4 linked regions of the Homo sapiens genome follow. The protein of the gene in region 4 purifies or fractionates together with the protein of the main gene of each other region. This does not show direct contact. Each region holds a gene or a part of one and is shown on either strand. Other genes may lie near its edges. The genes, in order: IRF2BP1, CCNY, ULBP3 and CCNL2.

Region 1 (7,321 bases), on a different chromosome or scaffold from region 4:
TGTTTCTAGGCATCCTGTTAGTTTACCCCGTGGAGGTAAATTTCCTCTTTCCTCGGGCAGTCCCTCTAGCAGTCTACCCTAAATTCTCCCTTCTACCCGGCAAGAACCCACTGCCCATGTCTTCTAGGAAGCCTCCCGCTGCCTCTTTCCCCTCCCCACGTAGGCGCTGAGTCCTCCACCTTCCAGGTAGAGATAGGGGATGGGTCAGCTACAGAAGGGTAATCTACTCCCAAGCCTGTCTGTGGCTCCCCTGCAGGAGCCATCCCCTCTCTGAGCCTCAGTACTTTTATCTGGAAAACGGGCCGATGGCTGAAACGTGACCAGTGGGTCGCACTTGTTGAAGGTCGGCCGGCGGGACCGCCTGGGTGCAGGGCGCCACCTGGAGGCTACCGCGCAACGTCCTCGCCCTCGCAGGACCAGTTCAGTCCCAAAGGGGGCGCAGCATCTCACACAACTAAGGGACCAAGAAGGAAAAAAAAAACCCATCTTTCGGTTTATTGAAGGAGCAGAAGGGAGCGGGGGGTGGGGGGGTGGGAATTAAATGCTTTTGCCTCGTTTATAAAGAGCGAGTTTTCAGGAGGTCCCTTCTCAAGGAGGAGGGGGGCACCTCTCCCCCAACTACAAGCAGCAGCAAAGCCAAGCCAAGGAGGACAGAGGGAAACTGGAGGGGCCAAGGGACCCCAAACACCCCCTCGGACAGGAGCCACAAGCTTTCTCCCCCCACCCACAATGCATCTACCCCAGGGGACCCATCTGGGTGGAAGAAGGGAGTATGTACACAGATAGAGGTGGCACTGGGCTGGGTCGGGGAGGGAATAATTTATCCGCGGCAGCGGTGGGTGGCAAAGGGGCAGAGGGCAGTAGCCTGGAGGCAGTGGTAGCCTAGGGGTCCCGTTCTTTCTTAACTTTGATGTCTCCAGCAAGGATGGTGGCGATCTCGCCCTGCATGAAGGCCCAGGGCACGGAGGAGCCGACCAGCGGGCACTTGTCTCCGCTCGGGCAGTACACCTCCCCGGCCGGGCCCTGCGCCTTGATGAACTCCCGGGAGCAGGGAAAGCAGAACTTGTGTCCGGGCACCGAGGGGCACTGGACGAAGTGGGTGTCTTCTAGCCGCTCCCTGCACAGGGTACAGCACAGGGGGGCCCCAGGGGTCGCCCCAGTGCCGCTGCCACCCCCGCTGACAGCTTCGGCCCCCGCTGTGGGACTGACTTCTGCTTCGCCGTTGCGGGCCACAAGGCGATGCTGGGTTGGCGGCTGGGCCGTGGAGGAGGCTGCAGGGCTGGCGCCCCCTGCACGCACAGGCCCCCCGCCTCCGCCAGGGTCCTTGGGTGAGTGGCCCAGGGCTTCGGCCACATTCTTCAGGGCGGCAATGGGCGAGGGCACACCAGGGGTCTCAGCGGAGTACGGGCCGCCGGGTGCCACCCAGTGCCGTTGCTGCTGCTCCTCGGTGGTCATCTTCCCAGCCGCCTCGCCCTCCGGCTCGGGGGATGCCTTGCGACGGCGCGGCGTGGGCGCCAGGTTCCGGGATGGGGCTCGCGGGGGTGGGCCACAGAGAGCCGCAGGGGCCGGCTCTGGGTACTGCTGGGGCAGGGCCTCCGCGGGAGCTGGCTCGCGGAAGCTGCGGACGCCGTCGGTAAGCAGCTCGCCCAGCTGCCGCCATTCTCCTGATCCATGCCGGCGTTCATATTCGAGGTACTTGAAGCCCGAAGAAGCCAGTGCCTTGCCCGGCTCCCGCAGAGCATCGTGGAACATCTGGCGAGCCACTGCCAGGACGCCGGCGTACACATTGCCGGAACCACAGGGGTATTCGGTGAAGAGCTTCAGCTCGAACTCGTATCCTGGAGGACGGGCAGTAGCATCGAAGGCGAACACTCGCCCCACCAGCCCGTGATCCTTCTTGAAGCGCACATTGAACGGGGCGCAGGCGGACAGCGCCAGTAGCTGTTCCCGCACTGCTTTGGGGCGCCCGTGCCATTCCTCTGCCCGGCCTCGCATGGCCTCGTTCAGTTCTGCCAGACAGTCCGCATTCCTCTGCTGCTTCTCTTTCTCGAAATCGGAGCCGAAGAGGGGACGGGCAGGACTCAAGCCGGGTGCCAGCGTCAGGCCTCGGCTTCCCAGGCCAGACACTGCAGCTGCCAGCAGCCCAGGGGGCATCAAGCCAGGCATGGAGCCAAGCAAGGCCCTTCGCGCCCCCTCAGCCACGGCCTCCTCACGGCCCAGCCCATTGGCCAGGCGGGACCCCAGAGTGTACTCCAGGGCGGGCGAGGGCAGGGGGAGGCGGCCTGATGATGTGGCCCTGTCATAGCGGTCCTGGCCCGACACGCCGCCGCCGGTCCCTGACGGCTGGGGCTGGGCCTGCGGGGGCGGCAGCTGGGGCCCCTGTGCGGCTGCCGCCGCCAGGTCCTTGGTGGCCGGGTGCTTAAGGGCCGGGGGCCCGGGCGAGCGGCCCTCGGGGAGCACGTGGCTGCGCTTGAGCTGGCGGGCGGCATCGATGAGCAGTTCGATGCGGTCCGCGCCCTCGAAGTTCACGCAGCCGCGACACACGGCCTCGCTGAAGTCCCACACCATGGCCCACGGCATCTTGGGCAGGTCGCACAGGTAGCACCACTGGCGGCGGGACGCCTGCACAGACGCCATGGCCCCAGTCCGCGCGCCGCCCAGCTCCCGCGTTCCACCGGCCGCCGACGTGCGATCCGCGCCGCCAACGTTCGATCCGCGTCCCGGGGACAGCGCGAGCCACGGTCCGGCCTCCGGCTCGGCCTCCCCGCCGGATCCAGGCCCGGCCCCCCTTCCCCGCCCCCTGGGCCCTAAGCCTTTCTGCTCACTCCCGCCTCCCTCGCGAAGGCAGGCTGAGGCACGTCGGCGCCCCCGCCCGGTCCGGGCTCCGAGCCGAGGCGCACAGCTCGGGCCCCACGATGGGCCGCGAGCGCCGCCGCCTCGGGCTCCCGCCGCTCTCGCCGCCGCCGCTGCAACGGCCGCCGCCGCCTCCACCTCCTTCTTCTGCCCCAGAGGCCGCTTCGCAGGGAAAGTTACATAACACGCCTGCAAAGCCTTCTGGGAAACGTAGTCCCGCCGGGGCCGGCTCTTAAAGGGAACGGCGGGCAGACGCGGGCTGGGGGGGTTGTCGCCTCTGCCGGCGCAAACCTTACAACCTTCTCCGTGGGGCCGGAGTTCAGCGCGCCGCAAGATGCTGGGACACAAAGGTGGTAGGCGAGGATGCAATACAAATGATCAGAGCTACTCCGGATTCAGAAATTGTGGGGGTGGGTGGACAGGCTTCCGGGCTTCCAACTTCTGCTCGGATTTGCTGTGCAGCTTTAGGCAAAATGTCTTGCCCTCTCTGAACCTCAGTTTCCCCGCCCAGCAAAGGTGGGCCAATGACGGATTAGGAAAGTAGCAGCTTCTGGGGCGGGGCGGAGAAGCCCTGATTGGCTTCAGAGCAGGGACGGGAAGCTGGCAACTAGGTGGGGGTGGGGGTGGCCACCTGGCACTTCGTCCTCCCCCCGGAATCCTAGATATATGCTTCTGGGGCCCGCCACAGCCAGAGAAGGGAGAGGACTAAGGGCTTCCGAGCCAGAGCCTTGTCTCAGTTGTTTCTCTGCTAAAAGAGTGGGGCGACTGGCCGCCCTCTAACCCTGTCCCAGCTCTGCCCGCGCGCTCTGGTCTCTAAAGGGTTACACCATCGGGGGCTCGGCGTCCCCCACCCGCTTCACTACAATTCCCAAAATGCACTGCGGGTCGGACATAGTGACGCACTTCCGCCCTCTGGGAGGTTTGGGGAGGCCTTCCAGATTCACGCTACTTTCCCGGCTACCCCCCGCCCCCCCACTTTTCTGGGGGCTCTTTACGTGCATTCGGAGCGTGGCGTTTGGGGGACCCTTATCTTCTGTTGCTCCCCAGTTTGAGGGAAGAGTAAGGGGTTAAGAAGTGACGGGCAAGAGGAGGGAGTTGCTGGGGAAGGGCAAACACCAGACCAACCTTTCCCCAACCTTGAGCGCTCACTACCTGGAAGGCCCAATCAGGCTGTGAGGACCCTTCTTCTTTCCCAGGCATTGGGAACTGGACGAGGCTGTCTTTGGGGAAGGGCGGAGGCGGGTCTCCAGGTTCCAACCCACAACAGCCCCTTTCTCTAGGCCTGGGTCCGTGTTAGGTGCTCAAAAATATTTGAATGACGTACCAGTTGGCCCTGGTTTTGTCTAGTGAGGGGCTGCTTGTCCCTTCTCCTCCCGTCCCACTGGAACCGCAGCAGCTCTGATTCTGTTACCCAGACCTCACAATTTTAAAATGGTTTCACAATTTTGTCTACTACCTGTATTTGAACACTTTTCTCCCTTAAAAAAAAGATTTATCAGGCTGAAGTGGGAGGATTGCTTGAGCCTGGAGATAACAGGCTACAGTGAACCATGATTGCGTCACTGCACTCCAGCCTGGGCAACAGAGCAAGATCCTGTCTCAAAAAAATAAATAAAAATAAAAAGATTTATCTATTTTTGCCTCATCCTAGGTAATACGTTCACAATCATGGGTTTCATGTACTGTGGTTACCTTAAAAAAAATTAGTGAAAACTATCGACTCATTCAAGAGGACATTAATATGTCACTTAAAGTTGCCTTTGGGCTATTATTTACGAAACACTAATGGGAGTTAAGGCTTCTGGCCAGATTCAGCCTTCAGGTGGACTGGATTGGCCTCTGACCAGCTGTGGCCTTGGGCCAGTTTCTAAACTTCTTGGAAAAAATGGAGACCCCCTCCAGTCTCCTTTTATTTGGGTACCTTCAGATTGAATGCAAACATGCATATAAATGCTTAGCTTGGTGCCTGGCACAGAAAATAAGTGCCACAAATGGAAGTTGTTTTTAAGCTGGACAGTTATTCAAATATTCAACCCCTCTTCCATGCTGGGCAATGCTGGGGACATAGCAGTGACTGAGACAGGCTTTAAGCCTTGCCCCTGAGAAGCCCCAGCCTGGTGATGGAGGCAGATAGTAAATTTACTCAAATGATGAACTAAAATTTGTGATGACTGCGGTGGGGAATGTGTGTCAGGAAAAGCTTTCCTGGCCATAGTGGCTCATGCCTGTAATTCCAGCACTTTGGGAGGCCGAGGAGGGCGGATCACTTGAGGTCAGAAGTTTGAGACCAGACTGGCCAACATGGTGAAACCTTGTCTCTACTAAAAATTAAAAAATTAGGGGGCCGGGCGCGGTGGCTCACGCCTGTAATCCCAGCACTTTGGGAGGCCGAGGCAGGCAGATCACAAAGTCAGGAGATTGAGACCATCCTGGCTAACACGGTGAAACCCCGTCTCTACTAAAAATACAAAAAATTAGCCAGGTGTGGTGGTGGGCGCCTGTAGTCCCAGCTACTCGGGAGGCTGAGGCAGGAGAATGGTGTGAACCCGGAAGGTGGAGCTTGCAGTGAGCCAAGATCGAGCCACTGCACTCCAGCCTGGGCGACAGAGTGAGACTCCATCTCAAAAAATAAAAATAAAAAAAAAATAAATAAATAAAATTAGGCCGGACAGTGGCAGTGGCTCACATCTATAATCCCAGTACTTTGGGAGCCCTATCACTTGAGGTCAGGGGTTCGAGATCAGCCTGGCCAACACGGTGAAACCCCCATCTCTACTAAAAAGTACAAAAATTAGCCAGGTGTGGTGGCGCACACCTGTAATCCCAGCTACTCAGGAGGCTGAGGCAGGAGAATTCCATGAACCCAGGAGATGAGTTCACACCACTGCACCTCCAGCCTGGGGGACAGATGCAAGACTCCGTCTCAAAAAAAACCAAAAAACAACAACAAAAAAACAAAAAACTAACTAAATAAGTAAAAATACAAAAATTGGCCAGGTGTAGTGGCACACGCCTGTAGTCCCGGCTACTTGGGAGGCTGAGGCAGAAGAATCACTTGAACCCGAGAGGCAGAAGTTGCAGTGAGCCAAGACCGCGCCACTGCACTCCAGCCTGGGCGACAGAGGGAGACTCTACCTCAAAAAAAGAAAAAAAAAAAAGAAAAGTATAATCTAATTATAGGAAGAAAGACTCTGACATCTTTATGTCCATTCTACAGATGAGGACACTGGAAGCCAATGGTTACACAGTTGGCCAGGGCAGCACCAGTACTTGAGCCACGTCTTGAGTCCAGAGTGGTGGTGATTATCTACTTTGTTACCTGGCCCTGCAGCAGAGTAAAAGAACCAGTTCCTGCCTTCATGACATTATGGGCAAATGTGCCTTAAATAGATAAAGGCCTGTGTTCATTTAGAGTCACTATGAAAAAGAACCCAGCTGTGTGTGGTGGCTCATGCTTGTAATCCTAGCACTTTGGGAGGCCGAGGTGGGAGGACTGCCTGAGCCCATGAGTTCCAGATCAGCCTGGACATCATAGAAAACCCCATCTCTAGAAAAATAAAACAATTAGCTGAGCATGGTGGCACATGCCTGTGGTCCCAGCTACTTGGGAGGCTGAGGCAGAAGGATTGCTTCAGCCTGGGAGATCGAGGCTACAGTGAGTTGTGATCATGCCACTGCACTCCAGCTGGGGCAACAGAACGAGATCCTATCTCAAAAAAACGGAAAGAAAAGAAAAGAAAGGAAAAGAAAAAGAAAAAGAACCACAGGACACTGAAAGAGACTCTAAGAGGCAAACCCACGTTAGCCTTGGGGAAGGAATCTAGGACTTTCTCCTGGAGTTGACATTTAGACTGGTATCTAAAGGAAGAGTAGGAATAAGATTTCATGTAAACACAAGACTTGATGGCTTTAAGAATTAAAAAAAAAAAAAAGCTGGAAAACCACCAGCCTCCCAATTGCCTGCCTGTGGAGGGGGCGGGGCAGGTGTAGGTGCTGGTCCCCCAGGCCTGTCTCAGACAGAGCCTCAAGTAATTGTATTAAAAATAAGTTTATTGATATCTTGTCACCACTGGGAGAAAGGAGGGGGTTGAGCTCTGGAAGTCAGAGACAGCAATGGTAGGCAGAGAACCCAACCTGTACCTCTCCCATCAGAACTCGGCGCCTCCTCTCCCTGGGGTATACACGGCTATATCCTCTTTGTCATCCGTATTTTGATTTGTCTTACAACTCCCACCCGCTCCAAAGTCTGGGTTGGGGAGGTGGGGAGTCCCCCACGGGTCAATTCTCTTCAAGTCAAGAACAGGAACTGTTAGGGAAGGGGAGATGTGCAGACCCGAGAGGTTCCCTCCCCACCCCACATAGGGCAATAATAAATAACATGAAATTGATGGCTTAGAAGTCAGGGTTAAGGGAGGCAGCCAGGCAGACAGCACTGTACCAGAGAAAGGGGTTGGGGGGGCCCATTACT
Region 2 (7,020 bases), on a different chromosome or scaffold from region 4:
TCTGGAGTTGGCCAACCCCTGAAATGACCTCTTCTGCCAGAGTCATCAAGAGACTTTACAGGCAAAATCTTGCTGATGTGTGGGATCCACCAATGTGACTTGCCAGGCTGACATGCTCAATTTTAGCTTTAGCACACCCTTCTTTCCAAGCTGGCAAATAGCAAAGGAAGCCCCTAGAAAAAGTAAAGGGAGACAGAGAGCCTAGCAACAGCTACCAGCAACACACAGAGCCAACAGCAAGAAAGAAAAGGTGGGTGGGGTATCTCCTGAGCTCCCTGCAATTGTGGGTCTAGCCAGTTAGATTCCTTTCCTAAAAGAAATGAGAACAACAGCCCCTAATAACCTGCTGAGGAACGCTTGATCTTATTATTTTAGGTAACCAACTACCCTTTATTAAAAAGCAGTATTTTAATATAATAAAGCATATTTATGCATGCCTCAAAATCCTATTCTTTGAATAAATAAATAAGCAAGCAAGCAAGCCCTGGCTCCAGCTTACACCTAAGGGTGCATGCTGACATTCCTAGGAATGTGGTTCCGGGGACACAGTTAGCAGACAGCCTGGGTGGGTTCCATTACCCCAGGAGTCAGGGAAAGCTTCTTCAAATATTCATCCCACTGCTCCTGTGTGGCATCACACTGACTTCAGAAAGATGCAACTCAGAAGAGTAATGAATCTGAGAAATAGTATTTCTATTCCAAATTCTACAGCCAGCAAGCATCCCACTCAAAGGTCAGACAGCTCTATATAACCTTACCCTACCCAGCTCTAAAATTACAGTTATGCTCTGGGACTGCCTTGAAGCCTGCTTTGATGTCTTTGTTAGGATAAGCTCTTTAGGCTTCCAGCTTCTCCAACTATGGACAGTCCAAACATAATTAGGTGGAGATACTGGAGCACACTTCACATATAATACAAGAAAATCAATATGAGTACCACATTCATAATGACATAAGTTCATCTAGTACTTTGTGGCTTTTTAAGCATTTTAGCCTCATTTGGATCCTCATAGTACTACCTCAATGTGTAAGGCGAGTCAGTTTTTTTTTTTTTTTTTGAGATGGAGTCTCACTGTCACCCAGGCTAGAGTGCAGTGGCGCTACCTCGGTTCACTGCAAGCTCCGCCTCCTGGGTTCACGCCATTCTCCTGCCTCAGCCTCCTGAGTAGCTGGGACCACAGGCACCCGCCACCACACCCAGCTAATTTTTTAAAATGCAAATCAAAACCATAATGAGATACCATCTCACACCAGTTAGAATGGCAATCATTAAAAAGTCAGGAAACAACAGGTGCTGGAGAGGATGTGGAGAAATAGGAACATTTTTACACTGTTGGTAGGACGTAAACTAGTTCAACCATTGTGGAAGTCAGTGTGGTGATTCCTCAGGGATCTAGAACTAGAAATACCATTTCGCCCAGCCATCCCATTACTGGGTATATACCCAAAGGATTATAAATCATGCTGCTATAAAGACACATGCACATGCATGTTTATTGCGGCACTATTCACAATAGCAAAGACTTGGAACCAACCCAAATGTCCAACAATGATAGACTGCATTAAGAAGATGTGGCACGTATACACCAGGGAATACTATGCAGCCATAAAAAATGATGAGTTCATGTCCTTTGTAGGGACATGGATGAAGCTGGAAACCATCATTCTCAGCAAACTATCGCACGGACAAAAAACCAAACACGGCATGTTCTCACTCATAGGTGGGAATTGAACAATGAGAACACATGGACACAGGAAGGGGAACATCACACACCGGGGCCTGTTGTCGGGTGGGGGGAGTGGGGAGGGATAGCATTAGGAGATATACCTAATGTTAAATGACGAGTTAATGGGTGCAGCACACCAACATGGCACATGTATACATATGTAATAAACCTGCACATTGTGCACATGTACCCTAAAACTTAAAGTATAATTTAAAAAGTAAAAAAGAAATAAAGTATACCAACTGAAAAAAAAATTTTTTTTGTATTTCTAGTAAAGACCAGTTTTCACCATGTTAGCCAGGATGGTCTTGATCTCCTGACCTCATGATCCGCCTGCCTCAGCCTCCCAAAGTGCTGGGATTACAGGCATGAGCCACGGCGCCCAGCCCAAGGCAAGGCAGTATTTTTAAGCACTTTTTTTAAGCAGAAGAGGAAGGTGAGGCTCAGCAGGACGGAGGCCCCTCAGTAAAAGTAGAACCTCATCTGGAATGCGGGTCTTCCCATTACAAGGCTTCCTCTCTTTGCCCTCCACCATACTTCACAGAGCTGGGAGCACACCCTATAAATCCCCTGAGAAGAGCCTTCTCTGACTTTACCTTCCTTGAGCCTCTCCTTTCTTCAGGAAAGACAGGCTAGAATAATGCTGAGAATCAGAGAAGAAATGGTCTCCTGACCAAGGCTCCAAGCAACAAACTACTCAACATCTGAAGAGGATGAGAAATGCTGCAGGGAAAGTGAACTCTCACCCTTCTTCCAGCTATAAACTGGAAATAATACTGAAAGGATGAGGGACTTACATCAACTGTCATTGCTGGGGACCTACCCTCACAGCCCAATGTTGAATCATGAAAGGATTCACACTTTGAAGTGTGACAAGTATGATACTGTCAATAGCCCTCTTGTGAAAAATAGCACTGTTTCCTCAAAGTCAATCCAATGTGACACACTTGGAGCTAAATCTCTGACCCTATGTGATTAAAACAGAATTTCAAAGCCACACACATATCCTGCTTCTTGGTATTTTTTGGTTCTGCCCCTTGCTGGATAGAAATAAATTTAATCCTTGCATTAGTTTCATCTAGCCAGAAATGTAAAAGCAAGACCATCAGGCCGGAGACTGTGGCTCACACCTATAATCCCAGCATTTTGGGAGGCAGAGGCAGGCAGATCACCTGAGGTCAGGAGTTTGAGATCGGCCTGGCCAACATGGCAAAACCCCGTCTCTACTAAAAGTACAAAAATTAGCCGGACGTGGTGGCACGTGCCTGTAGTCCCAGTTACTTAGGAGGCTGAGGCAGGGGAATTGCTTCAACCCAGGAGGCGGAGGTTGCAGTGAGCCGAGATGGCATCACTGCACTCCAGCCTGGGCAATAAGAGCGAAACTCCGTTTCAAAAAAAAAAAAAAAAAAAAAAAAGACCATCAGCTTTGTAGAGGAGGGTGAGAAGGTGAGAAAATCTACCACTCCATGGAATTATTTAATTTTCATTACTCTCAAAAAGCAGGCAGGAGACTGGGCGCAGTGGCTCATGCCTGTAATCCCAGCATTTTGGGAGGCCAAGGTGGGTGGATCATATGGACCAGCCTGGCCAACATGGTGAAACCCCATCTCTACTAAAAATACAAAAATTAGCTGGGCAGTAGTGGCGTGCACCTGTAATCTCAGCTACTCGGGAGGCTGAGGCAGGAGAATTACTTGAGCCTGGGAGGCAGAGGTTGCAGTGAGCCAAGATCGCGCCACTGCACTCCAGCCAGGGCGAGAGAGTAAAACCCTGTCTTAAAAAAAAAAAAAAAAAAAAGGCAGGCAGGAAAGTAAAAGTCCTTACACAAAATATTGCTAGACAAAAGCATATAGGCAATAACTATGAATCTCTTGAAACAAAGTGGGCTGGGCCAGGCCATCAGGAGGTTCAGATTCTAGACACGGATCATTCTCTAATTAGCTGTCACAGGGCAGTTGAGGCATGGAGGCAAGCTGACAGCAGACCGAACCCCAGCTGCCACTAACAAACTGAGGAACCTTCCGCAAATGCCTTAACCTTTAAGGCTCAATTTCTTCACCTAGAAAATGGGGAGAATGATAAGAAGACTAAGAAAAACAATACAGGTCAAGTAATTAGCACGGTTGTTGGCCGAAAATTAACAAAGTAAATTCTACTACCATCATCCATGATCTGCATGACCTGGGCAAGAAACTACACCTCTCTGAGATTCAGTCTTCCCACCTGTAAAATGGGTGTGTGGAAGCAAACGACTCCCTGATTCTAAGTGAAAGAGAAACATGAAAAGTAAGCAGAGACAGGTCATGGACCCATGGTCAGTGCTATGGAGAATGGCTCTCTTGACAAATCTTTAAACTGCACTTCTCCACACTGCTAACTAATATGAAGTCACATGCTTGGTCGGGGTGTCTCCACATACCTTGCAGACAGCAGGGCTGATAAGTCTTAGCCTGGAAAGAAAGTCCACGGTATGTTCTGCCCACCAGGGCTGGTAATGTTAATGTGGGACCAAGATTCAAGAAAGAGTGCTGCAGAGGTGATGTTAAATAGATTGTAGAGACTCAAGGAAGCCAAGAGCAATATGCAAGCTCATCCTACAGGCACTTAGATTTCAAATTGCCCTGTGTCCCCACTCTTCTAACGGCAAGCAGTTTTGCCAGTTATCCCTCCGCTGCTTGGGATGAGTCCCTGAGGCTTCTAGCTTCTCTGGCTGTAGACAGCCAAAACACCATGTACCTATATCCCATTAGACACTTCATGTTTCAGACAAGAAAATCAACATAAGTGACTATGTTCATAATTGCAGATGTTCATCTAGTATTTTTTGGTTAATTGAGCATTTGAGTCTCAATTTGATCCTTAAGGATGTAAGGCCACAGCTAAAGTCATTCGTTGAAAGAAACAAGGAAAAAAGACTAAACATACCACATTATTAAACAGATTCCCATTAGCCAGGTTTCCTTTCAGCCTGGGTATGCTTTTTTTCTTTTTAAGCTTTAAAACCTTTAAGTTTCATTTTCAGTACTTCACCCTATCTGCTACCTCTCAGGTTAAACTACAAAGCCAAAAAGTTTCACATCCACGCTACTTTCATTATTACAAGTCCTCTTCATTCTCCTTGCCTCCTGTTTCCCCTCACCCAATAAACATACGCGATGATGTTTTCATTCACATCCTTCAATGGTTGGTTTCACTCAACAAATTCATTCAACAAATATTTATAGTATCTTCAAGGAATCAGGTGCTACTCTAGGCACTTGGTTACATCAGTGAACCAAACAATAAATGTTCTATTGGAACTTACATGCTAGTAGCTAGTAGCTAGTATTTATGTTTATACTTATATAGTATATCATAAAGTGTTAAGGAATAAAGAAACAGGAGTGCAGGGAATATGCATTGGGATTGCCAGTGGGCGGCAGAAAGGATGTTTAAAGGTGATTGGGAAGGCCTCCCTGAAAAGGTCAGGCTTGAACCAAGGCTGCAGGTGATAAAGGGACTCAGCCAAGAGAGCACATGGAGGACACTTCAGGCAGAGGGAGAGAACGGGGTGGAAGTTTGTGTCTGGTATGTTCCAGGAAGGGCAAGGAAGGAGGCCAATGTGGCTGGAATGAGCAAGCGACTGAGTGAGCTGATGGCAGGCAGATCCCAAGGGGCCCCAGCGACCACTGTAAGGCTTTTACTTGTGCAATAACGAGTCACTGCCGTTTTTGAGTGAAGGAATAAGTTCAAGTTTTTTAAAGGATCTTAGCCATGGCTGTTGTGTCGAGAACAGACTGGAGCAGGCAAGGGTGGAAGCAGGGAGACCAGGTGGGCTGGGGGAGATGGCAGCTGCTTAAATCTCCAGAAGAGCAGCAGCAGAGGTCTTGAGAGTGGTCAAAGTCTGATATATTCTGAGGGCAGAGAGCCACATTTTCCTACCAGATATGATACAGGACGAGGGAGAAAGTGAGTTGTCAAGGATGACAGGTAAACTATAAAAATGAAAAGAGTGGGCCAGGAGCAGTGGCTCACCCCTGTAATCCCAGCACTTTGGGAGACTGAGGCGGGCAGATCACTTGAGGTCAGGAGTTCGAGACCAGTATAACAAATATGGAGAAACCCCATCTCTACTAAAAATACAAAATTAGCCAGGCGTGGTGGCGCATGCCTGTAATCCCAGCTACTTGGGACGCTGAGGCAGGAGAACTGCTTGAACCCGGGAGGTGGAGGTTGCAGTGAACCAAGATTATGCCACTGCACTCCAGCCTGGGTGACAGAGCAAAACTCCATCTCAAAAAAAAAAAAAAAAAAGAATGAAGTTGCCATCAACCATTTTAAGGTAAAACCCTACAAGGACACTATGGTACAGCTGTTACAAGTATCCTGATTTATTTGGTCTCCTCACATTTTAAATTCTCTTTAGTCCCTCCCTCCCTTTCTCCTCCCACAGAAATAATCTAATCCTGGAAGTCTGGACTGAATAACTGCTGCAGACAGAAGAAGTTTATCCTTGAGAAAGTATGGATATGACTGCAATGACAAGACACCCTATCCCAGAAGGCAACCCCAGACTAGCTAACGTTTGATGGCTAAGTCAAGCAACAATGGAAAGTTTCCATTTGCCATGTATTGGCTGTGTGACTTTGGACAAGTCATTTCTCCTCTCAGTGACTCATTTCTTTGTCTTAAAGTAAGGGTAATATTACCCATAGGGTTACTGTGAGTTCTAAGTAAATGAATGGAATCCAAGTACTTAGAGCGGCAGCTGGTGACAGCTGCTACAGAGTAAGTAATACATAGGCTGCAATTATTACTATCATTTTTTTATTTTCCTAAAGAATTGTTCTGAAGATTACTATTGTTGTTATGTGTTGCTGTTTTTTCTCAATCTCTGAATGATTTTATAAGAAATAATACCTGGAAAGCATGAGTCCAATATCAATTTCAAAAACATGAATAACCTAACACTAAGATAAACTGAGCAAAAAGACACATTAAGTTGCCATTAAGCACCATAGACACCTAAGTTCCCAGACACTAAAATTACTGAAATTCTACAGGACAAGTATTACCCCTTCATGTGCCTGGTGACAAAGGGAAGAAAGCATGGATACATATGTCATATCTCTGTGATTTAAAGACACTAACCTATCATAGAAGACCCATGAACTTCAAACCTTTCTAAACCAGCTGGGTGGGATGTTTTTCAGGACATAAAAAATATGGTATTTGAGTACTTCAGCTTTTGATATATACTAGAGTCAATGATTCTTAAAATGTAGTTTTAAAATGTTTACTAATAACCTAACAA
Region 3 (7,955 bases), on a different chromosome or scaffold from region 4:
GGCAAATGAATGATGGTGAAGTTATACCAGAGAGAGTGAGCGTCTAAGGAAAAAAAAAAAAAACACCAGAGAGTGTTGGGGTGGGGGAAAGACCCCAAACACTGTGACAGCAAGAGGGTTTCCTGAAGGGCTGGGCTGGCAGAGCATGGATTTCTCTTCCTGGACGGTGGTCTCTGCCTGTGGAGGAACCATGGGTCGCTAACATGTCTATCTCCCCACTCTGCCCAGGCCTATACTCACATCCGTCAGCACAGGACCCTGCCAGGGAGGTGGCAGGCCCACTACAGGAAGAAGGACTTAGATGGCAGGATCTGCAGGAGCAGCCCAGGTGGACTGCAAGAGGCGGGAGAGTGTGGGAGGGCACCCTGAGGATGTTGGAGCGTGGTGCAGTGGGTACGATGTAGTTAACATTGGATAAGGATGAGTTCATTTATTATGGGTAACAAGACATGGTAAGTTCCCTGGAATGTGGTCAGCTGCTAGTAGGTTGCCCTTGGAACCTTGGAAAAAGGAATGACCCACACCGCATGAAACAGAAAACCCAGGTCTTACGTGGCAGGTTGTACAGGAAGGAACAAAATACTAAGAGAAGTGCCCATGCCAGAGTGACTGCAGTATGAAAATCCAGAACAATGTTCACCCTCTGTGCTCAAGGGAAGCCTGGAAGACTCCTGTTTACCTAGCATATAAAGAAGGCCCCAGGAGAAGGCAGCAGACTGTCAAGAAGCTCAGGGATGCCTGTTGCTGAAGCCCAGGGTCAGGGGTAGGAGATGCTCTTCCTGAAATGGGCTCCCAGTAGTAATGGGGATGGAAAATCCTGAAATAAGAGATCTCAAGTGGAGGCCGTCAACTGTCAGCAGGAAGGAGGGTGCAATGATGGAAATAATTAGAGAAGTCACAATGCTAGCTGGGGTCCTCAGTCTTACAAAGCTATGCCCATGGCTCATAGAACAAAAGGGTCCAAGATCCAAAAGAGATGGAGACTCCACCCGGATACTACTAGATTTAAATAATTACCACAAAGACAAAATGCAAGGATGGATGACCAGGAGGCTGAAAGTTGTCACCCCGGGAAATAACTGAGCTCCCTCGCCCAGCTTTGAGAACTGAGCCACATCTCAGACGCAGAGTCCATTACTAGAAGGAGAGCCCAGAGCCCCTGGTGGGCTCCTTCAACCCCACAGCAATTGCAATGACTCCTTCAGCCTCCCCCACAGAGCCAGATGGGTAGTCACTCTGGTAACTGTACACCATGAAACAGCAAATACTCAGACACTCCTAGTGGACACAGTGTGTGATCCGAGCTCTTCCCAGGGATGTGAAGCATTAACTTGCTCCCCTGTTACTCATGAGGTGCATTTGGGGCAAAGTAACAGATGGACTTCTGTGTCAGGTCCAGCTTAGAGGGATGTGCTGGGTTCATAGACCCATTCAATGGTAATTTCACATTTCCTGGATTTCTACCGGGAATGGATAGTGTTTGTAGTTAATGTAGTAACTATTATAGTTTGTGCTGGTCATATGACCTCCCCTGTCACTACTCAACTCTGCTCTTATAGCTGGGATGCAGCCATACACACTCTGTGATGAGGGGTGTGGCTGGACCTGCCACTACAGCTATTTGACCCTGGACTCCCTAAGATCCCAGAAGCATGTGTGGTTGGAAAAGGTGCTATGTGGATTTCATGGCTATTCCCAACCACAGAATCCAACAGGGTCCCCTAGTGCTCAGAAGCAAAGCTGTGCCACTCACAGCAGTGAAATCCCCTCATTTAAAAGTGGCTCCTGCTGTGGTCCTGGGCCCCTGTGGAGATGGGCCTCCAGCTATGGGAGGGCAGTGACCACACAGCCTCAGAGCTGCCCATCACAGGGTGTGCTCCTCACCCTTTAGGTCATTAGGAAGATAGGCCCCACAGTGAGAAGACACAGGTGGGTCTCCTGGGATGGGCAGGAGCAGGGCCACAGGGAACCAAGAAGCTGCACAAGCAGTTGGCTCTGATCCCCAGGACACCACATGGCTACACCCCCCCACCCTCAGGTCACACCTGAGGCTTCAGGGAGGGTCCCTGAATGGCCCCTGGGGACCGTTAATGCTACTCAGCAACAAAGGAGGGGAGCAGTAGGCCCCGAACCATGGGACTCCCCCTCACATTCATCACATCCACACCTCCCAGAAGCCACAGGCAGGGTAGGACACACTTGTGACTCTTCAACTTACACAACTTAGAGATGACACCCTAGGGGATGGGGCAGCAATTGCCAGGACACAGCATGTGCCCTCATCTGGAGTCTGCAACCTAGGACAGGGTCCATTTCAGGTTTCTCTTTTACTTGCAGGTTGCCATTGCCTGCTGTTGCTCTACAAAGGGACGGGACTTGACACAGAGACAGAGAACTCACGGCCAGCAAGGACCAAAGTGCCTTCAGCCTTTCCTTTCTAGAAAGGGTTTGCTGACTCCTGTCTGCTTAGTGACTATTCTATATGACGCTGGCGTCACCCATGTCTTGACCCCAGCTCGGGTTCCGGGGGCTCTGGTTTCTCCTTCCCGAGGACGAGTGGGGCTGCGGGGTTGCACCAGGGATCCCCTCCCCACCTCGCCCTCTGCAGCTTTTTGGCCCCTCCACCCTCCTGCGGTTCTTTTTTCGCCTTCTTTGACCCCCCTCCTGCTCTGCAGGGCAAGCAGCAGCCGCAGGAAGCGGACCTGGCGAAAAAGAGCAGCGAATCGGAACTGAGCGTGGGGGCAGTCCGGGGAGATCGCGCCGGTCCTTCTAGAAGGCTTCCCTCCTCTGAAACCCGCTGCAGTCCACAGCCCCCCAGGTTTGGCCCCCGCCCCGCTTAGGCTCCATCCCCGAACTCACCGGCCCGCCCCGTCCCGGACCAGTCGAATAGCAGGTACGGAAGAATCGCGAGGCGCGGAAGGATCGCGGGGCTGGCGGCCGCTGCCATTGTAGACCAGGAGCGCCCGGGACACAAGGCGCAGTCGATGTGGAGACCAGCGTATGAATCACTTCGGCCCTCGCATGCCAGCTAGTGATTGAGTGTGCTCGGCCCCGTCCGGTCCCGTCCCGCCCCGGGATCCAGGGGAGCCTACGCCTGCCCACGTTTGGAGGGATGCTCCGCCCTATCCCGCCCCGTCCCGCCCTTCCCCGCCCCACCCCAGGCTGGGACCCGGGGAGCCTATGCCTGCTGTGGCTCCGCTTCGTCCCGCCCCGGGCTCGTGGCCTGACAGCGGCCCCCTCTGGCCAACCCTTACCCTCCACCCCAGGCTCCGCGCGGGCCAGGACACGATTCCTTCTTGACCGCCTCATTTAATTTTTTAACACACCATTTATTATTACCCCAATGTAAGCACTGATGCACAGGAAAGCGAAGAAACTTGCACAGGGATATCCAGTGGCGGCTGTGTCCCCCCGTCACTGCCTCCGCCAGCGACACCTGCCCTCCTTCAGCCTGCGCCAAGGAGTCCCCGCCCCTCTCCGTCCAGGGCGCAGCTGCTTCCCAGTCCGGAGCAGACCTTCTTTGCCTCTCCACTAAAAGCATGAGGAATATATAGAATATATATAGAATAAAGTATATTCTATATCCCTTTATGACTTCTGGGAAAAAAAAGAAAGAAAAGAAAGCCCTAGTGGCCTACCGTGATCAGTGATCAAATGATCAATTGTGTTTCCATGGAGAGCAGAAGCCGAGGGAGGGTCTACGCATGCGTGGGGCTCACTTTGCTGTACACCCATCTGTGGCCAGCTACACGCAAATCCATGGCTGCACGCGCATCTCTGCCCTGTCCCTGGATGGTGACTGCAGCCATCCTCAAAGCGGCAACCCGAGTGTATCCTCGTCTCAGTCACCATGGAAACATCTAGATCTGTGGGCAGAAGCCAGAGGGAGGTGATGGGCCCAGTGGCCCTTGGCCGCAAGGGAGGGCTTTAGCCTGGGATGAGGAGTGGACAGAGATCTTGAGTGCCACTCAGGCCCCAGCCACTCAGCCCATTCCCTATTGAATGAGAAAAATCGGCACAGACCTCCCACTCCGTACAGTCTTCATGTTGGGATCACCTGCACCTGGTGATCATCAATCCCGAGGGTCCTGAGGCTGTGGGAAAGAGGAGGAGGCCTGGACAAAGCCCAGGGCCTGTTTCTGCTTCAGGACAGAGTCATGGGAGGGCAGCCACCTCTGTGACTGAGCAGGGACACAGGAGCCTAGAAGATTCTGGCCTGATGCACTAGAGCCCCTGTGCAGGAGGGGCCATGTGGAGGGTAGTTTGGAGGACAACAGACACACAAGGGTGGGCAGTTCTCAGATTTGGGAGGGGCAGAGCTTGGCGGGTCCCAGGATCTGTGTGTGAGAAGAGCCTCCCATGTACAGGGCTGGGGGCAGGAGCCCAGGTTAGTCCTGGGAGGAGGCCTCTGGGAAGGCCCTGGCAGCACCACCCCGAGGCCAGGTGACCTGGGCCAGTGACTGGGGGAACAGGAGGAAGGTAGAAGGAGGCTGGCAGGAGAGCCCCAAGCAGGACAGGAGGAGGGGCTTTTGTGCACACCTGGGCCCTCCTGACTCACCCCTGCTGCAGGCATCTGGCCAACAGACTCAGGCCTGCCCAGGATGGGGATAGAAGTGGCCCAAATGTTATTGTAATGGCCGGGATCTAGAGATCATGCATTCAGATATGGAAGTCAGCTGATATTGTGGCTGAATATTCCTGTGCAAGCTTCTTCAGCTTTCTAGGAATGGATGTCTGCATGTGGAAAATGACAAATGCTATGAACACAGATGAAATGAGCAGATTCTACAAGGAACCCTGTCCTTGCACATGCTAAGGACCCAGGGCAGGTCTCCTATTTCAGTTGTGAGGCCTCCAGCTCTCCCTGAAGTCAGCAACTGCCAGGCCCACCCTGAGGAGAGCTGGATCTCTGAGCCCAGGCCATGGCCTCTTCATGGCCCTGGGGGCGCTGTGATGGGGAGGAAATGAAAACAAGACCCACCATCAAGACTCAGGCATGTTTTTCAGACCCACAGAGGATGATTTTTCTCTCCATCACCTGGTGAGCCTGACGTGATGTAAGGGTGGTTGGAAGCTGAGTGAACCAGTGAATGAATGAGACAGTTGTGGGAGTGAATGGGACTCAGAAGAATAGCACAGGTTCAGAGGGGAGCTGGAGCGGAGGTTGTAACCCCCAGCGGCCTGAAGGTGGCAGCATCGAGGTTGGTAATTTTTTTTTTTTTTTGCCTTTTTTAGTTGTTGGGTTTTATTTGTTGTTTTCCGGTTTGTTTGTTTTTGAGACAGTCTCACTCTGTCGCCCAGACTGGAGTGCAATGGGACGATCTCAGCTCACTACAATCTCTGCCACCCGGGTTCAAGCGATTCTCTTCCCTCAGCCTCCCGAGTAGCTGGGATTAGAGGCACCTGCCACCACCCCCGGCTAATTTTTGCAATTTTAATAGAGACAGGGTCTCACCGTGTTGGCCAGGCTGATCTCGAACTCCCGGCCTCAGGTGATCTGCCTGCCTCGGCCTCCCAAAGTGTTGGGATTACAGGCGTGAGCCACTTCGCCTGGCCCCAACTTGGAAATTTGAATCTCCACCTGGGTGTCCACAAAGATTTTCCAAGGAAGAGTAACTTTGGTTTTCAACCAGTCTGGGGGGTGCTTCATCAGGATAGAATCTTCTAGAAAACATAGTGTGATGACGGACAGCAAACTGCTGTCTTCAGTTGGTTTGACTGAGCCTAGAGTGCACCAGGGCCAGGAAAATCTTGTCTTTTTCTTGCCTTTTTTTTTTTTTGAGACGTTGTCTCATACTATCGCCCGGGCTGGTGTGCAGTGGTGTGATCTAGGCTCGCTGCAACCTCCGCCTCCCGGGTTCAAGCGATTTTCCTGCCTCAGCCTCCTGAGTGGCTAGGATTACAGGCATCCCCACCATGCCCGGCTAGTTTTTTGTATTTTTAGTCGAGATGGGGTTTCACTATGTTGGCTAGGCTGGTCTCGAACTCCTGATCTCATGATCCGCCCGCCTTGGCCTCCCAAAGTGCTGGTATTACAGGCGTGAGCCACCGCGCATGGCTGAAATACTTGCCTTTTAAGCAAAGAAAGAACGAGTCTGAAAGTGGGAATGGAAATGGGAAAAGATAACCGGGCCAGGAGGAAAGAGGAGAAAAGAAGGGTTGGGGTCTGAGAGGTAGCAAGGATTCAAGCATTTCCTGCCCCATGGCCTGGAGTTGCAAGTGGGCGGGGCAGGGCTACTGGAGCTGTGACAGCCTTGAGGGCCAGGGTGACTCACGCAGCGGCTCTCTGCTTCCTCTGGGTGTGTCACACCCTGGGCTCCTGGTCCCCAGTGGCACAGGTGCTGGCGCGAAGTTGGGTGTTTGCCTCCAGCCTCTGCTCCTGCTGCCAGGCTGGTCCAGGGCAGGTTGGGGCGGGGCAGTGAGTTCTAGGGCTGGACCCTAAGCAGGGGTGTGGGCAAATATGGGGGTCTTGGACTGCAGGGGGTCAGGAGAGGGGAGGCTTCTGGAAGTTCCTGAAGGTTGCCCTGGGATTTAATGCGACATTGCTAGCTAGAGCCAGCTTGGCATGGGGAGAGCGATGCGAGACTGATGAAAAGCGTGCAGCCTGATTTAAAGCCAAACCCTGAGTCCTTTCTAAGAACAATAAAGCATATTGTAGTCGCTAAAAGAAACAAATACAAAAAAAATTAAAAAGTAGCCTTTCTTCGCAGATACAGCACGTTTTATTTTTAATCTTTACATTTAACATTGTCTTTTGAAAATAGTGTATATTATTTGATATTTTAAAATCCAACCTGGGAGTTTCAGTGATTTATGTGATAAGTTTAGTAGTTCACTTTTATTGTAATTACTACTGTTTAGGATTTAGCTCTGCCATCTTTTTTATTTATTATTTATTTATTTTTATTTATTTATTTTTTCTCTGTCGCCCAGGCTGTAGTGCAGTGGCACGGTCTCGGCTTGATGCAAGCTCCTCCTCCTGGGTTCATACCGTTCTCCTGCTTCAGCCTCCCGAGTAACTGGGACTATAGGCGCCCGCCACCACGCCCAGCTAGTTTTTTTTTTTTTTTTTTTTTTTTTTTTTGTATTTTTAGTAGAGACGAGGTTTCACCTTGTTAGCCAGGATGGTCTCAATCTCCTGACCTTGTGATCCACCCACCTCTGCCTCCCATAGTGCTGGGATTACAGGCATGAGCCACCGTGCCCAGCCTATCTATTTATTTTTTTTAAGATATGGGGTCTTCCTCTGTTGCCCAGGTTGGAGTGCAGCCGCGTGGTCATAGCTCACTGCAGCCTCTAACTCCTGGGCTCAGGCCATCTTACTGCCTCAGCCTCCGAGTAGCCAGGACTACAAGCATGCGCCACCCACTGGGCTAATTTTCTATATTTGTCTGTAGAGATGGGGTCTGCCTATATTGCCCAGGCTGGTCTTGAACTCCTGAGCTCAAGCGATCCTCCTGCCTTGGCCTCCCAAAGTGCAGGGATTACAGGCGTGAGCCACTGTGCCTGGTGCACATGTATTTATTGTGTTTTTTATTGCTGGCATTTCCCCTCCGTAACTGTGTTCTATTTAGTATACTGAGGGTTTTTTTTCTGTTGGTTTAAAAGTTATACATTCTAGTTTTCTTCTCAGGGTGGCTGCCCTTAACCTATGACTCATACCAATATGTGTCACATTTATTGGTATTATTGGTTTTGTTTTATTCCTAATTTTAGAAGTCTCAGCATGTTTTCCTATCCCTTTCGTGTGCCACCTCCAGCCCCATTTTCCTGATATCTTTCCTAGCTGTAATTCTCGGTTATTCTTAGCTACACTTCTTTGTTTCTGTGATCCTAACTTCACATTTCCCCTTGTTGTGAAATAACAGTAATCTGGAATAGATTCCTTAGTCACTTGTCCTCCTCGGTTCTCTTGTCGTATCTCCTGTGTTTCTCTCGCTATTGAGGTAACTTCC
Region 4 (7,020 bases):
ACTGCACTCCAGCCTGGACGACAGAGCGAGACTCCATCTCAAAAAAAAGAACTGCAGACAGGCCCTTTGCATCACACTGAACTCTAGGTCTGATGACGTGTATCATCTATGGCCCCACACTATAACACCTTCATCAGATGACAAGCTACCTGGGCAGCAGGATAAACAAAAGCATTTCAGACAACCTGTCATACTCCCTGCTAATCAACAGAAAGGCCAGGTGCCTATGCTCCTAGCACTCTGGGACGCTGAGGCAGGACAATCACTTGAGGCCAGGAAATTCAAGAGCAGCCCGGCCAACATAGCAAGACCCAGACTCAACTAAAAAGATAAAGAATTAGCTAAGCACAGCTGGGCACGGTGGCTCACGCCTGTAATCCCAGCACTTTGGGAGGCTGAGGTGGGCAGATCACGAGGTCAGGAGATCGAGACCATCCTGGCTAACCTGGTGAAACCCCGTCTCTACTAAAAATTCAAAAAATTAGCCAGGCGTGGTGGCGGCCACCTGCAGTCCCAGCTACTCAGGAGGCTGAGGCAGGAGAATGGTGTGAACTCAGGAGGCGGAGCTTGCAGTGAGAGGAAATTGCGCCACTGCACTCCAGCCTGGGCTGGAGCAAGACTCTGTCTCAAACAAAAAGAATTAGCCAAGCATGGTGGCATGTGCCTGTAGTCCTAGCTATGCAGAAAGCTGAGGTGGGAGGATCACTTGAATCCAGGAGTTGGAAGCTGCAGTGAGCTGCGATCACACCACCATACTCCAGCCTGGGTGACAGAGACCCTGTCTCAAAAAAAAAAAAAAAAAAAATGTCTGGAAGGAGCACATACCCCAGAATGGAGGCGGGGGAGAGTCACCAGTCTTTGCCTTTGTGGGGAGTGGATTCCTGCACTCTAACAGACTCACCCAGCTTGGGGGCAGGAGAGAACCCCGAGGTACCATCCAGCACCTGTGTGCCCCCAGGCAACAGGCCCCGGGCTTGGGCCTTTGCCTCTTCGATAGCGTGCTTTCTTTTTTCCACTTCACCCTCCAGGTGTGTGAGATCAACCTGCAAAAGCCAGAAGGTGTCCGTTCAGAACCAGGTGTTTCTGGCCAAACACAAACGCATACGTTACATGAAAAAATGCCGAAGAACCTTTTTCCGAGCATAAAGCTGCAAGATCTTTAAGCAGATTTCCTGAATTTCTTCTTCAGTTGCTCCAAACAAAAGAAACCAATGGGGACGATTGGGCAAAGGGATCTGTAAAAACAAACACTATCATCATTACACTTTCCTCAACTTCACGGCCAGCAAGACTCAGGACAATTAAAAAACAGCCTGTTGGTCACGAAAATGCTTTGGCCCAGATTAGAGTAATTTGAAGAATAACACAGTAAAGTTTACTGGAGGCTGGAGAAAAAAAAATCAGACTAGAATCTCTCCATAGTAGCAACACACTGACCTCCAGCGTCCGGGCAGCAAGATAAATGCAGGCACAGGCGATGCTCTCTGGCTGGAACCGCACGAAGACGTCGGTGCGAAGGCTGTCGTTCATGTAATTCCTGGAAGCCAAACACAGGAAGAACTGCAATGCCCCACCCGGGAACCCAGGTCTTCCGCCTGCATTATCTAGAGAAAATCTAGATAAACGTACTACTCCTCTAAGGAGTCTATTGCTAGGACTCAGAGCTAGACAGTCCTGTGAATCTCAAGAGTTAATGGAGAAATATTCTAGCTGCTTTTTCTAAATACAGTAAATACAGGACAGAAAGGCACAGAAATTATTAGAAAAAAAAAAAGCTGGCTGAATGTCAGACAATACGTGTTGCTATGAAAGAGAACCGACTTTAACTTTACTTTTCCCCTCAACCTTGGCCTGCTCTCATGCAAAGCACGATGCCTCAGAAAGAAAATGTCTACTGGAGTCACTAAAACGCTTTTGATTAAAGAAATCTAAATGCTCAAAATCCATAGTGCAGAGAAACATGCAAACTCAAATGAACTGGCTGAGCACAAAGCCGGTGTGGCTGCTGGGAGACAAGCCATCCTCTTGGGTTCCTCTTCCTCTTCCTCCAGGGCGCTGGCGGCAGGCCCCTTCTCTGCTGACCGAGCTGCAGCTTCCTTGAAGGAGTCCACTTGGAAGAGGGAAAAGCCCCTTGGGTGCAAGTTGGACGCGTGGGAGCATCGTGCGGAGGGAGACTCCGCACCCAAGGGCAGGCCTCTTCTCGGGCTCATCAGAGCCGCTGCCAACTGTCCCATTTCAACAAGGGGTCTTAAAATGAACATTCATAGAATCAGAAGCAACACAATACTGAGAAGCAACATGATACTGAGAAGCAACATAATACTGAACATTTCATCACAGTACATTCTTTAACTTTCATATTTAGAAGCTATAAACATACAAAAATTTACATTTTTTAAAAGTTAAAGCATTTAAAACCTGGCTACATTTTGAGCATTTCCTTTAGATCTCTAAGATTTAATAGACTAAAACCAGACCTTACACTAGCTTTATGAATACTGCAAAAACAGAAAGGGTGATTCCATGAGGACAGTTGAACTGGTTTTATATTTACTGCTCCTCACATACCCCAATAACGGGGAGCCTTGGAGTGGGGCTGCACCCGCAGACGAGGTGGGTTGTGAGGGAATCTGACCCATGACCTTCCAGCAATATCTCTGTCCTAAATAAACCTTGGAGAAGGTAACATACAAACCCACTCAAGAGATTTCTAAATGGGAAGTCCTACAGGTGCCTCTTGGAGACACCCGGCTCTGGAAGCAGCTCCAGGCATCACGGGGGAATCTGTGTGGCGGCCGTGTGGCCCCAGCCCCTGATGCAAGCGTGCCAGTGCACAGCTCTAACACAGATACATTCAACAATCAGTAACCTTTCGGTGTCTAATCAACAACTGTCAGTATTCAAGTAGTGATATTAATCCACGAACTTAAAATTCTTAAAAACAAATGAAATCTTGAGAACATATAAACTTATTGCTGTATTTGAAGTGATACAATATTTTTCAAAGTATCCATGAAATAATTTAAAGATGCACACCTTTTACCAGAGCGTGTCATGCAAAGCTGCTCAAAAGAGCAACTTCAGGGCTTCTAGAAATCATGACATAACCCCACACTGACACAGCCAATTTGTCTCTTCAATTCTCACAGCTTTCCATAGCATTTTTTTTTAAGAGAAAGGTACTGCATCTTTATCATACAGGTACAGCAGTTTTAAAGGGACAAAATTCAAGTCAAGACAGTTACCAACTCTAATCAATACGATTACCAAAGCACGACAGAGGATTAACAAGAAGCACAATCGTCAGAGAACCACAGCAGGAGTCGGCCATGGCTATGCTATGTGCGTACCACCAGTCTAGAGCCAGCCTTCGGTGGAGAGCCTGCACTGGATTGGCTGAAGATGCCGCTGTCCCTGCACCAAAGCGCTTGGACAGCAGAGGAGAAGTCTTAGTCACTTACCCTCAGAGGCTACCCTTTGATTGAAAGAGTACAGAAAAGAAAAGTCAAAATAGGTTCTCTATTAAACATGTCATAGCACCAGACAATTCAGTCAGCAAAAATATGACCCTTACAGACTTAACTCCATGGGAAAAAATTCACCAGAATCCCCAGAATCCCCCAAATACTACATTGCACTTTAGGGTTCCTTTCTAGCACATGCATTGCTAAAATCGGCCCCAGAACCTTCTCTGCCCCTCTCCCATGGGATGCAATGTCAGTGGAGAAACAGACCAAGTCTGCACTAGCCTGTCCCTCCACCCTCCCCAGGAAAAGGTCCCCCTGCGCCAAGTCAACAGCTCCCAGAGGAAGCCCACTGACTGCTCTCTTCAGGGTGGGGGACACAGGAAGTCCAGGCTTGCAGGGAGGGGACGGGCCACCTACCGTGACTGCCAGTGCCCATTTTGGGAGTCTGATTGGAATTTATACAGCAGGAGCACTGGGCACTCGGACAACTCCAGCCCACAACCAAGTCACTGGGCTGCCTACCCACTGCCCAAGTGCCTCAAGTCAACACATTCCTGCACTGCCCTTGCTGGTCTCATAAAACAAGGAAGCTCAACTCACCATGAGGTCTGGACCAGGTGTTGGTTACGCTCACACTCTAACACCTGAAGGTACATAACGATTATCTGGAAGATACGGGTCAGGCAGTTATTACCAAGAACCTTAAGAGCCCAGAATTCAGATCTTGTGGGTGTCCATGCAGCAAACAAGAGCCTCAAGCTAGATCCCAGGAGTGGCTCCTGGCCACACGTCTGGCGGACGGCTCAGCTGGAGGGAGCTTTGCGATTGCACCTGCTGTCTGCCTTGGCAGCCAGGCAGGACGCATGCCCGTGAGCCCAGCCACACAACCCACGGCACAGGCCTCGTTCTTCATGGGGCTGGTTTCATTCTAGTCTTCAATGCCTTTCCACCAGTGAGGTTGGCCTGTCCTACACGTCTCTGTATCCCAGTTAACAACTCACCAAAACACAATATGAACATACTTTCAGCAAACAGAGAAGAACACTTCAGGCCAGGCACACTGGCTCATGCCTATAATCCCAGCACTTTGGGAGGCTGAGGCGGGCAGATCACCTGAGGTCAGGAGTTCGAGAACAGCCTGACCAATATGGAGAAACCCAGTCTCTACTAAAAATACAAAATTAGTCAGGCATGGTGGTGCACGCCTGTAATCCCAGGTACTCAGGAGGCTGAGGCAGGAGAATCGCTTGAAACCAGGAGGCGGAGGCTGCATGAGCTGAGGTTGCGCCATTGCACTCCAGCCTGGACAACAGAGCGAGATTCCGTCTCCAAAAAAAAAAAAAAAGCACTTCAATCTGTGGTGGGCAATTTGTGGATAATTTGAACAGATGGCAGAAAGCCGAACAAGCAGATGAGGAAACCCACCAATAAAAAGGAGATGGAACCAAAGATGGAAACAATTTTTTGGGAAAACAAGTGCTTTGTTTCCATGTGACACAGAAGGCACCCACAACGCTGGGAGTGAGGGACCGTGTCACGGCCATGGTCCTCAGTCAGTACATGCCGCAAAACTCGCCAGTCATTTCAGACTAAAGGGGCCAGAATTCCCCTAATTTCTCCATAAGAGAAAGTAAAGCTATCACTAAAGCAAATGTAGAAAATTAACTGTTGAGGCTGGGTGCAGTGGCTCACACTTGTAATCCCAGAACTTTGGGAGGCCGAGGCAGGTGCATCACCTGAGATCAGGAGTTTGAGACCAGCCCGGCCAACATGACGAAACCCCATCTCTACTAAAGATACAAAAATTACCCAGGTGTGGTGGCGCATGCCTGTAATCCCAGCTACTTGGGAGGCTGAGGCACAAGAATCACTTGAACCTGGGAGGCAGAGGTTGCAGTGAGCCAAGATTGCACCACTGCACTCCAGCCTGCATGACAGAGTAAGACTCCGTCTCAAGAAAAAAAAAAAAAAAAAAAAAAAAGGCCAGGCACAGTGGCTTATGCCTGTAATCCCAGCACTTTGGGAGGCCAAGGTGGGAGGATCACGAGGGCAAGAGATGAAGACCATTCTGGCCAACATGGTGAAACCCCGTCTCTACTAAAAATACAAAAATCAGCTCGGCGTGGTGGCACGTGCCTGTAGTGCCAGCTACTCAGGAGGCTGAGGCAGGAGAATGGCTTGAAGCCGGGAGGTGGAGGTTGTGCCTCCACTGCCACTGCCACCATGCCACTGCACTCCAGCCTGGCGATAGAGCGAAACTCCATCTCAAAAAAAAAGAAAACAAAAAAAAATTAACTGTAGAGAAAGGAAAACATAAACTAAAATTCAACATTTATAAACTCACCACTATTTTTGAAAGCCCAAACTTAAATAATACCATTTCCAAAACACTTAAAAATGTGTTACTAAAATAAACAGCTGACACTAGAAGACGAATACGTCAGGAACTATTCTTGAGATTATAAATAGAAACTGGAAAGCCAAGTCAGGGATGCACTCAGTCCTCTTCAGAGCCTTCAACTGCACTGAGGTGGAGAGAGGCGGCCAGGCAGGAGCAGCGGCCTAGGCGGGCTCGCAGGGCAGGAGCCGCACACCCACCTTATGAGGATGCTTCACATGGACGCAGAAACCCAACTCTTTGAGAACTCGTCTTTCCGCCTTTATAATTTGGTTCTTTAAATTAACATAATCTTGATCCAGTAGTAGAGGCACGGGCTTCCTGCCAGAGAGAGAGCACAGGGTCTGCACCACAGTCAAGCAGAGCAAGGCTTCTGAGATCCCGTCGTTACCTCCAACTATGAGCACCTAACACAAACCCCACAACACAACATCGCTATGAAGTCCACATCCTCTGATGAACAAAACTGCACACCGCTCCCCACAGCCCAGTGCCAACCTCCTCATCCCTTCCCAACGATCCCTCCCTGCTTTTCCTTATAGATCAACAGCTTCTGGTGCACAAGCATAGACCGAACATAGCAAGTTTTAGGATCTCGTGGCACAAATGCTAAAGCACTTTATGTGACTCACGATAGGAAGGTACATATTCACAGTTCAATAACCACAGAACCAATGAAAGCACAATTATTTAAATACAGATGGGCCAGGTGCAGTGGCTCTGCCTGTAATCCCAGCACTTTGGGAGGCGAGGCAGGCAGACTGCCTGAGCTCAGGAGTTCAAGACCAGTCTGACCAACATGGTGAAACCCTGTCTCTACTAAAAAAATGCAAAAATTAGCCGGGCGTGGTGGCGGGTGCTTGTAATCCCAGCTACTCAGGAGGCTGAGGCAGGAGATTCACTTGAACCCAGGAGGCGGAGGTTTCAGTGAGCCGAGATCGCATCACTGCACTCCAGCCTGGGTGACACGGTGAGACACAGTGAGAGTCCGTCTCAGAAAAAAAAAAAAAAAAAAAGGGCTGGGTGCAGTGGCTCACACCTGTAACCCCAGCACTTTGGGAGGCCGATGAGGCCATGTTTTTTCTTTTTTTGAGATGGAGTCTCACTCTGTTGCCCAGGCTGGAGTGCAGTGGCGCGCTCTTGGCTCACTATAAC

What was found.
Region 1: the proteins of CCNL2 (region 4) and IRF2BP1 purify together in Homo sapiens (affinity purification with mass spectrometry; 3 studies listed by BioGRID and IntAct, with this or other methods). This does not show direct contact.
Region 2: the proteins of CCNL2 (region 4) and CCNY purify together in Homo sapiens (affinity purification with mass spectrometry; 3 studies listed by BioGRID and IntAct, with this or other methods). This does not show direct contact.
Region 3: the proteins of CCNL2 (region 4) and ULBP3 purify together in Homo sapiens (affinity purification with mass spectrometry; 3 studies listed by BioGRID and IntAct, with this or other methods). This does not show direct contact.

The regions. Positions count from the first base shown.
Region 1 is NC_000019.10:45,883,138-45,890,458, forward strand, and holds IRF2BP1 (interferon regulatory factor 2-binding protein 1), read right to left. Parts: upstream 3,005-7,321; 5' UTR 2,638-3,004; coding exon 883-2,637; 3' UTR 471-882; downstream 1-470. UniProt on the Homo sapiens protein: Acts as a transcriptional corepressor in a IRF2-dependent manner; this repression is not mediated by histone deacetylase activities. May act as an E3 ligase towards JDP2, enhancing its polyubiquitination. Represses ATF2-dependent transcriptional activation.
Region 2 is NC_000010.11:35,339,505-35,346,524, reverse strand, and holds part of CCNY (cyclin-Y), read right to left. Parts: intron 1-7,020. UniProt on the Homo sapiens protein: Positive regulatory subunit of the cyclin-dependent kinases CDK14/PFTK1 and CDK16.
Region 3 is NC_000006.12:150,066,120-150,074,074, forward strand, and holds the start of ULBP3 (UL16-binding protein 3 precursor), read right to left. Parts: upstream 3,003-7,955; 5' UTR 2,948-3,002; coding exon 2,860-2,947; intron 44-2,859; coding exon 1-43.
Region 4 is NC_000001.11:1,389,329-1,396,348, forward strand, and holds part of CCNL2 (cyclin-L2), read right to left. Parts: intron 6,210-7,020; coding exon of another isoform or gene 6,187-6,209; coding exon 6,066-6,186; intron 4,133-6,065; coding exon 4,068-4,132; intron 3,477-4,067; exon of another isoform or gene 3,476-3,476; coding exon of another isoform or gene 3,454-3,475; exon of another isoform or gene 2,262-3,453; coding exon of another isoform or gene 1,969-2,261; exon of another isoform or gene 1,538-1,968; coding exon 1,438-1,537; intron 1,236-1,437; coding exon 1,131-1,235; intron 1,044-1,130; coding exon 902-1,043; intron 1-901. UniProt on the Homo sapiens protein: Involved in pre-mRNA splicing. May induce cell death, possibly by acting on the transcription and RNA processing of apoptosis-related factors.